2 linked regions of the Homo sapiens genome follow. The protein of the gene in region 1 interacts with the protein of each later gene in a pairwise test. Each region holds a gene or a part of one and is shown on either strand. Other genes may lie near its edges.

What was found.
Region 2: the proteins of SLC52A1 (region 1) and SLC7A1 interact in binary tests that used the Homo sapiens proteins (3 or more experiments, as listed by UniProt).

Annotation. Positions count from the first base shown.
Region 1 is NC_000017.11:5,032,551-5,037,020, forward strand, and holds SLC52A1 (solute carrier family 52, riboflavin transporter, member 1 precursor), read right to left. Parts: upstream 2,877-4,470; 5' UTR 2,311-2,876; intron 2,198-2,310; exon of another isoform or gene 2,164-2,197; 5' UTR 2,057-2,163; coding exon 1,927-2,056; intron 1,809-1,926; coding exon 929-1,808; intron 835-928; coding exon 711-834; intron 620-710; coding exon 407-619; 3' UTR 52-406; downstream 1-51. UniProt on the Homo sapiens protein: Plasma membrane transporter mediating the uptake by cells of the water soluble vitamin B2/riboflavin that plays a key role in biochemical oxidation-reduction reactions of the carbohydrate, lipid, and amino acid metabolism.
Region 2 is NC_000013.11:29,585,674-29,589,475, forward strand, and holds part of SLC7A1 (high affinity cationic amino acid transporter 1), read right to left. Parts: intron 1,120-3,802; exon of another isoform or gene 1,052-1,119; intron 1-1,051. UniProt on the Homo sapiens protein: High-affinity, low capacity permease involved in the transport of the cationic amino acids (arginine, lysine and ornithine) in non-hepatic tissues.

The sequences.
Region 1 (4,470 bases):
TAAGAAAGGCACTACAATCTGTATTTAAATCTAATTGCACACTAGATAATATATGTATGAAAAATTATTTAATCCAGTTTCCTGATTTCATTATATATTTCTTATAAGGTTTTCATTAGGCTTTTGTTTTTGTTTTTGGTTTTAAATAAAAACACTTTATTGCACAAATCCCACAAAGGTCTCAGGCCCTGGGTCCAAGCCCACAGCCCCAACCTGTCCCCTGGCTCTGGGCCTGGTCTTTGGTGCCCACCCTGGCCTCACATGCCAACGTCTTCTGTGGAGTGTGCAGGTGTCCATGAGCGTTCCTGTGTTGGGGGAAGCCTGCCTGGGCCACAAGTAGTCAGGCACTGTGGCAGCCTCACGATGAAGACAGGTGGGGTGGAGTTGGGTCCCCACCTGCCCAGGCTCAGGGGCCACAGGGGTCTACACAGTCCTTTCTGCTTTGAAACACGTGGTAGATGCTGGTGGGAGGGAACATGGCACCGGCACCAAGCAGGGAGCCCACTTGGATGGCCACACCAGCTGCCAGCAATGCCGGCCGACCCCCACCATGCAGCAGGGAGCTTGCAGCCACCTTCACATATGAGAACACACACAGACACAGCACCCACGACAGCACCTGCAAGGGAGGACACAGCAGCAGGCTGAGCATGACATGCACTTGCTCCAGGGGACACCCTCCTCCCCACTTCATGTCTCCACTTGCTCACCACAAGGACCACCCCTGCAGTGGTGCCCACCAGGGGTGGGCAGGGGCTCAGGATTGCCAGTGCCATCAGGTAGGCCCCAAAGAGCATGCCCAGCAGAGAAAGACCAACCAGCCCTGCCAGGGACCTGTTGGGGATGAGCAGAGACTCAGGGCTGGCTGTTCTGGGACCTGGACCCCAACCTTAAGTTCCACCCACCAAGCCTGGGGACCCTTTTGCACCTGCACAGCACGCCCATGGCCAGGAAGCAGGCAAGGGGGTTGGCGGCACTGCCCAGCACCACAGCCAGGTGGTAGGCCAGGCGCCCATAGGGCAAACAGGAAAAGCTCTGCACAGAAGGCAGCACGCCATTGGTCACGGCACTGGTGAAGGCCATCAGGCCCAGCAGGAAGGCACCATGGGCTGAGAACAGCTGATGGGCCTCAGGGTCTGGGCCAGGGATGGTGCCTGCTGCCTGGCTCGGTGGCTCCTGCAATGGCAAAGCCTCTTCTTCCTCCTTCTCTTCCTCCTCTGCTCCTGGGGATCCCAGTTGAAGTTCAGGCCCTGAGCCCCCTGTGGTTACAGAGGGTAGTGATGGCAACAGCAACAGGAGACCCCGGAAGGCGGCAGCTGAAGTGACCAGAAGGGCAGTCAGTGCCCAGAAGAAGGTGCTGGCAGGAAAACGCTCAGGGAAGTCGAGGGGAGGCCCAGAGGTGCCATTGGTGGGCGCTGGTGGGCACTCGAGGCGGCCCACACCTTGCACTAGGGCCAGCACACAGGGGAGTAGGGCACTGAGACCCTGACCCAGGAAGAAAGACCGTAAGAAAGGAGGTGGCAGGTGGCTCAGGAAGGGCAGGAAAGTGACATTAGAGGTACAACAGGCCATTGCCAACACCAAGGCCAGAGTTAGGAAGGCCACAGAGTGGAGCTGCCCTGCCACTGGGGCCACGTGGTGCCACAGAGGGGCCAGCAGGGCTGTGCCCACTACACTCAGCACCTGTACCACCTGGATGGGGACCTGCTCGCCCTTGCCCGGGGCCAGCTGCCTCCACAGGGTCACCACCAGCAGACCCAGGTTTCCCAGCGCCACAACCACAGAGAGGTATGAGGGGAGGCTCCAACCTGCAGGGAAGGAATGATGCCATGTCAGGAGCACAGTGGCTAAGGGACAAAGAGCTGCCACAGGCCACCTTTCTGGGCATACCTGCCCCACGCTTCCCTGTACCTCCCTCCCACTCACCCTCTGGAAGGTCTTTTACCACCACAGGCAGCTCCACCCAGATCCCGTTCACAGCAGCCCAGGAGCCCATGCCAAAAAGGGCCACCAGCAGGTGGGTCAGCACCAGACGGCCCAGCGTGGGTGCTGCCATTCAGCCCAAAGCTGGACCCTCCAGGACAGGGCAAAGGTCACAGGCAGGTCCTTCCCTAGGTAGGTCCAAAGATGCTTTGGTTCTTCTGGAAACTGAAGACCTTCTAGCTGGAGGGAAACAGACAGGCTGGCAGGTAATAGGCTGGTGGGACAGAACCGGAGTCAGAAGACAAGTCGGTCAGACTGCTAAGACCAGGGCAACTGGAGGGAGAGGTGGCCGGGGGCGGGCGGGGAAGGTGGGGAGCCAGGACTTACCACGGGGCACCGGCTGTGCGTTTGGGTACAGCGACCCAGCAGTGCCGGCAGGCAGACAGGCAGAAAGCTGGCCCGAGGTGCAGCTGCCCCAGAGGAGCAAAGAGGGAGCTGATTTTCCTACCCACAGAGGACCCGGGGTCCAAGTTGTCAAAACAGCTCAGCACTGGCCGGGTGCGGTGGCTCACACCTGTAATCCCAGCACTTTGGGAAGCTGAGGAAGGCAGATCGCCTGAGGTCAGGAGATTGAGACCATCCTGGCCAACATGGTGAAAACCCGTCTCTACTAAAAATACAAAAATTAGCTGGTCGTGGTGGTGGGTGCCAGTAATCCCAGCTACTCAGGAGGCTGAGGCAGGAGATTCACTTGAACCCGGAAGGTGGAGGTTGCAGTGAGCCAAGATCACACCACTGCATTCCAGCCTGGGCGACAGAACGAGATTCGGTCTCAAAAACAAAACAAAACAAAACAAAACAAAAAAACAGCTCGGCACCAACACGCTCACCCTCAAATGGACCCCGGGACAAGGGCACGTCTCTGGTGCCACTTGCAACCCTAGCGCTTTTGCGACACTCAGGACTTGCTGAGGCAGGTCGAGTTGGAGAGGGGAGTGGCTGGGGCGGGCTCTGCCCGGAGGGGCGTCTCCGTGCTGCCCTCCCGCCTGCCTCAGGGGGGCATCCCGGGAGCCGCCAGGTGCGCAGGGGTCCCCGCACCTCCGGATCCGGCAGTCCCCGGACCCAGCGGCTGGCGGTCTGCCTGAGAGGGAGCCCCCTCCGCCGGGGAGGCGGCCCAGCCCAGAGCCCACACAGCTGGGGTTTTGTTGTTTGTTGTTTTAATTAATTAATTAATTTTGAGACGGGGTCTCACTCTGTCACCCAGGCTAGAGCGCAGCGGTGCGCGATCGCGGCTCACTACAGCCTCAACCTCCCAAGCTCAAGGGATCCTCCCACTCAGCCTCTCCCCACCCCCCCACAAGTAGCTGGGACCACAGGCGAGCATCACCATGTCCAGCTAATTTTTTTTTTTTTTTTTTTTTTTTTTGGTAGAGACAAGGTCTCACTATGTTGCTCAGGCTGGCTTGGCACTCCTGGGCTCAAGCAATCTTCCTACCTCAGCCTCCCAAGTAGCTGGGACTACAGACGCACCACACCTAGCTACCGCCACGCTCAGCTGTTTTTACACTTTTTTTTTTTTTTTTTTTTTTTGAGACGGAGTTTTGCTCTTGTTGCCCAGGCTGGAGTGCAATGGCACGAGCCTCTGCCTCCCGGGTTCAAGCCATTCTCCTGCCTCAGCCTCCCGAGTAGCTGGAATTACAGGCGCCCACCACCATGCCCTGCTAATTTTTGTCTTTTTAGTGCACAGGGTCTCGCCATGTTAGCTAGGCTGGTCTTGAACTCCTGACCTCAGGTGATCCACCTGCCCCGGCCTCCCAAAGTGTTGGGGATTACAGGCGTGAGCCACCGTGCCTGGCCAGCTGTTTTTACACTTTTAAATGGTTGAAAAAAAATTAGCTGGACGTGGTGTGCACACCTGGCTAATTTTTGCTTTTTTTTTTTTTTTTTTTTTTTTTTGAGACGGAGTCTCGCTCTGTCGCCCAGGCTGGAGTGCAGTGGCGCGATCTCGGCTCACTGCAAGCTCCACCTTCCAGGTTCACGCCATTCTCCTGCCTCAGACTCCCGAGTAGCTGGGATTACAGACGCCTGCCACCACGCCTGGATAATTTTTGTATTTTTCGTAGAGATGGGGTTTCACCATATTGGCCAGGCTCGTCTCGAACTCCTGACCTCAGGTGATCCGCCCGCCTCAGCCTCCCAAAGTGCTGGGATTACAGGCGTGAGCCACCATGTCTGGCCCTTTAATGATATTTTGTACTTGTTTACTCACTGACCATCTCAGGGATTACCCTGACCTACTACCCATTTTTGTATGGCCTGCTAGCTAAGACAGGTTTTCACATATTTATTTATTTATTTTTATTACTATTTTTGAGAAAGTGTCTTCCTCAAAAGGAAGTGCAGTAGCACAATCACAGCTCACTGCAGCCTCAAATACCTGGGCTCAAGGATCCTCCCACCTCAGCCTCCTGAGCAGCTGGGACTACAAGCACATGCCACCACGTCCAGCTGTTTTTACATTTTTAAATGGTTGGAAAAAAAAATCAA
Region 2 (3,802 bases), on another chromosome or scaffold:
AATCCTGTGCTAAGCTGACAGTACAGAAGAGGCAGCCAACAGGGCTCTGAATCCCAAGTGCCTGAAGGAGGAATGAAACAATCTCACCAGAGAGGAAAGGACAGCTGTGACAGTCACCCTCCCTGAACAAGACCACTGAGACCAGGGATGGACATCTTCCAAGCTAACCTACAGTGCAGGTAAGAATGGGAAGCTGCATTTTTAGATAACTATCCATTAGAAACCAGGACGACATATGAACAGTGTATCTTGGTAGCCTTGGATGCTCAAGGATGAGAAACCCTGGGCAAACCAGGCAAAAATTCTCAACCACAGGACAGGACAAACTGGCCCAAAGGTTCCTTAGTTACAGAGTAAGTAAGAAGAAGCTGTAATTCTACCCCATCTGGGAACATTAGGAAAAAGACAACATCTGATACTCTGATTTCAGTAGAACTGGATTCTTCCAAAAATATAAATGTCAAAGTCACCCATTCACAGTATAATTTGTACCAAAGTGCAAAATGGGGTATGTATGTGTGCCAAAGAACAAAATCTACCAGAACTGAGCTGCTAGGGCAAAATTACAACAGAAACTTAAAATAATATATTGTCCCATCCACCTGCCAAAACATTAGCTCAAAGACATTCCTCCTTTAAATACAGTTTTACTAATTATAAGAATAGTCATTCAATAAATATTTCTTGAGCACTATTTTAGGTGCCACAAACACTGCAGTGAGAAAAACAAAGTCCAATTTTTCCAGTCTTTTCTTTCTGTGCAAATACATATATCTCATTAAGCTAACACGGAACATGGGAAATTGCACCCAGATGGTTTCACTTTTAACATTAAAGTTTCTCCCACAAAATCAAATGTTCTTTGAAAACGCCATTCTTACTGGCTACATAGTATTCTAACATGGAAATGGTATCATGATTTACTGAAAGACACTCCCAAATGCTTACCACAAGATAAAAACACAAAGGAGAGACATCATTAAATAGAACGTTAGACCTAGATTCAGAGCCTTAAGGAAAAAGAAGAAAAAAAAGGAAAATACAATCTTACAAATCTCAGAGACCCCACTATTTTCCTCCACAGGGATGAATATTCACATCCACACCACTGGCCACATCAAGCTCTAATTTGTGCATCTCCCTTTATAAGCCCCACTCCCTCTTTGATCGAAGAGAACATTGTCTGCACAGAACAATACGTTTTCATTTCAATTTCCCTTCTTTTCAGGAAAGGAAATGTTTGCACTTCAAAGGGTTTCTTTGAAGAGTAGCCCTTCAGCTCTGGCCCGTCCAGGTTGGGCGTTACGTGGACTCAGCAGGGTGTGTGGAGTCTGGGCGGCTGCCCACCGAAGTCACTCTCAAGGCCAGCTCCTTCAAGGAGAGGGTCTGGGGCCGGAGTAGAAAAAACAAACACATGGAAAAATACTCAAGGCTTTTGATCATGACCTTCAGAGGCCCATTTTCACACATAACATAGACTTACAGCTCAGGGAAACTGAGGTACAAATGATGGGGAGCTGAGGACAATGACGTAGTAGCTTCTAAGAACAAAATCCTTCCAGAAACCAGACTCGCTTAGCAAAGACCCGTTCTGGGCCAGGAAAGGGGAGAGCCACTCTCAGTTCCAGCTGTTATGGCGAATGGACCACCTAAGCGGACAAAGCAGGGAAGCGAGATCCAAACTTCACTACCTGCACCAGTTTTAAAACCTTTCCCTAGGAACTTTTGAGAAGCACAGTCATTGGCAAACAGCAAACTTCACATGGTAAAATTTCACATTTTATTTCTTCCGTAGCCCACTGGTAGGGGCCAAGAGGCTCATTAAAAGGCAAGTCTAACAACCACATGAAGCACCCAAGAGCTCACTGATATGGGGCCAGTGCTGTTTCCCTCAATCACGCTCCAGGCCCCATCCTTAACCTCTGCCAAGTCCAGGAAGCAAGGGGTATAGACCAGACAAGAGTGGGCCTGCAACATTTCTTTTCAAGTCTCAAACAAGTTCTGGATATTTATTAACGATCTCCACCCTTCCCCACCTGGAGGATATGCACCACAAAGGCACCACCAAGGCTGGTTAAGTCTGCCTGCTCGGTGGGCACCTGCCCAAGGGGTGGGCAGGAGCATGAAAGACCGTCAGCTCCAGACAGGGGCCGGCTCCTCCCACAGCCCCAGGACTTGGCTGCGGGGCTCCTGACTAGTGTGTGGGTGGTGGAGGGATCACGAGTCTGTGTGGCCAGGTCACCAGAGCTGAAGGAGCTGAGAAAGTCTTTCCACCACCTTTCTGGTCGATCACTCAGCCTCTGAGCTGGAATTATGAATGGGTTTTATTTTCTCCTTCTTTTAATTTTCTGTAGTTTCCAAATTTTCCACAACAAACATTCTAACTTTTAGAAACACTTTTTCTTAAAAAGGCTTATGAGGTAGAAAATCACACCTCTTTTGAAAGAACCCCCACACTGCAAAACTCCTTCCCCAAAAATACTTAGCTATAAAGGACATTATGTGGACGACTGCAAGTCAAATATGGACTGTGGCCTAGATCGCAGGGTTGTATTAATGTTAAATTTCCTGACTTTGCTATTGTACCATGGTTATGTGAGAGAAGAGCCTTGTTCTTAGGAAATATACACTGAAGTATAGAGGGCAAATAAAATGGCATGACGTCTTCAGCTGACTCTCAAATGGTTCAGAAAAAAATGTATGTGTCTGTGTGCATGTGAGTTTGTGTGGGGTGGAGAGAGAATAGAAGGAGGCAAAACATAACCCACCTGTGCATCTGAGAGACGGTACCCAGGAGTTCCTTGCACTCCTGCAAATTTTCTTTTCTTTTCTTTCTTTTTTTTTTTTTGAGACAGTATCTCACTCTGTTACCCAGGCTGGAGTGCAGTGGTGTGATCTCGGCTCCCTGCAACCTCCGCCTCCCGGGTTCAAGTGATTCCTGTGTCTCAGCCTCCCGAGTAGCTGCAACTATAGGCATGCGCCACCAACACCAGGCTAACTTTTGTATTTTTCGTAGACATGAGTTTCACCATGTTGGCCAGGGCTGGTCTCAAACTCCTGGCCTCAAGTGATCTGTTTGCCTCAGCCTCCCAAAGTGCTGGGATTACAGGCGTGAGCCACCATGCCTGGCCTCTGCAACTTTTCTTTAAGTTTGAAATGTTATCCAAAAACTGCTGAAAAAGAAAAGGGGAAAAGGAGAAGGGCAAAAGGGATGAGGGAAGAGTTCTCCTAACTCTAACTGCCAGTCTTTCCCAGGGGCCTTCACTGGGTCCCAGAAACTGCACCCTAACGCCCCCAGCTCCTAGACCAGGCCTCATCCCAAGGGAGGGCAGGAGGTGTCCCTGACACTGTGGAAAAGCTGCGGGCCAGGAAGACTCTCCCAAGTCACTTTGGGGAAGACGGGCCCTTGCTGCAGGCCCTGGTGTGGACAGCTCCTGCCCCAGCCTCTCTGAGAGTGTTAAAGATGCATCCTCTAAGGAAAGGGGGCACCTCCGCAAGATATTGTAGAAATCAGCAAAGCCAAGCCAAGGGCAGGATGACAGCGGCCACTGGCCTTAAGAAGGATGGAACACAGAAAAGGAAGCTGACTTTCCCCTACGAACAGTCTCTGATTTCCACAAGACCCCCTGCAAAGGGGTCTCCCCAGGTGGAGATGGAGGTGGAGTGTGGGCGTGGCTGGATGGTGATAAATCAAACAAGGCTCCATTGTGGTCTGGGCAGGAGGCATTGCATCCAGCCAAAGGCTGGTGATGTAAATGCCAAACTACTGACCCAGAAAGAATGCAGCCCAGCCTCCGTCACA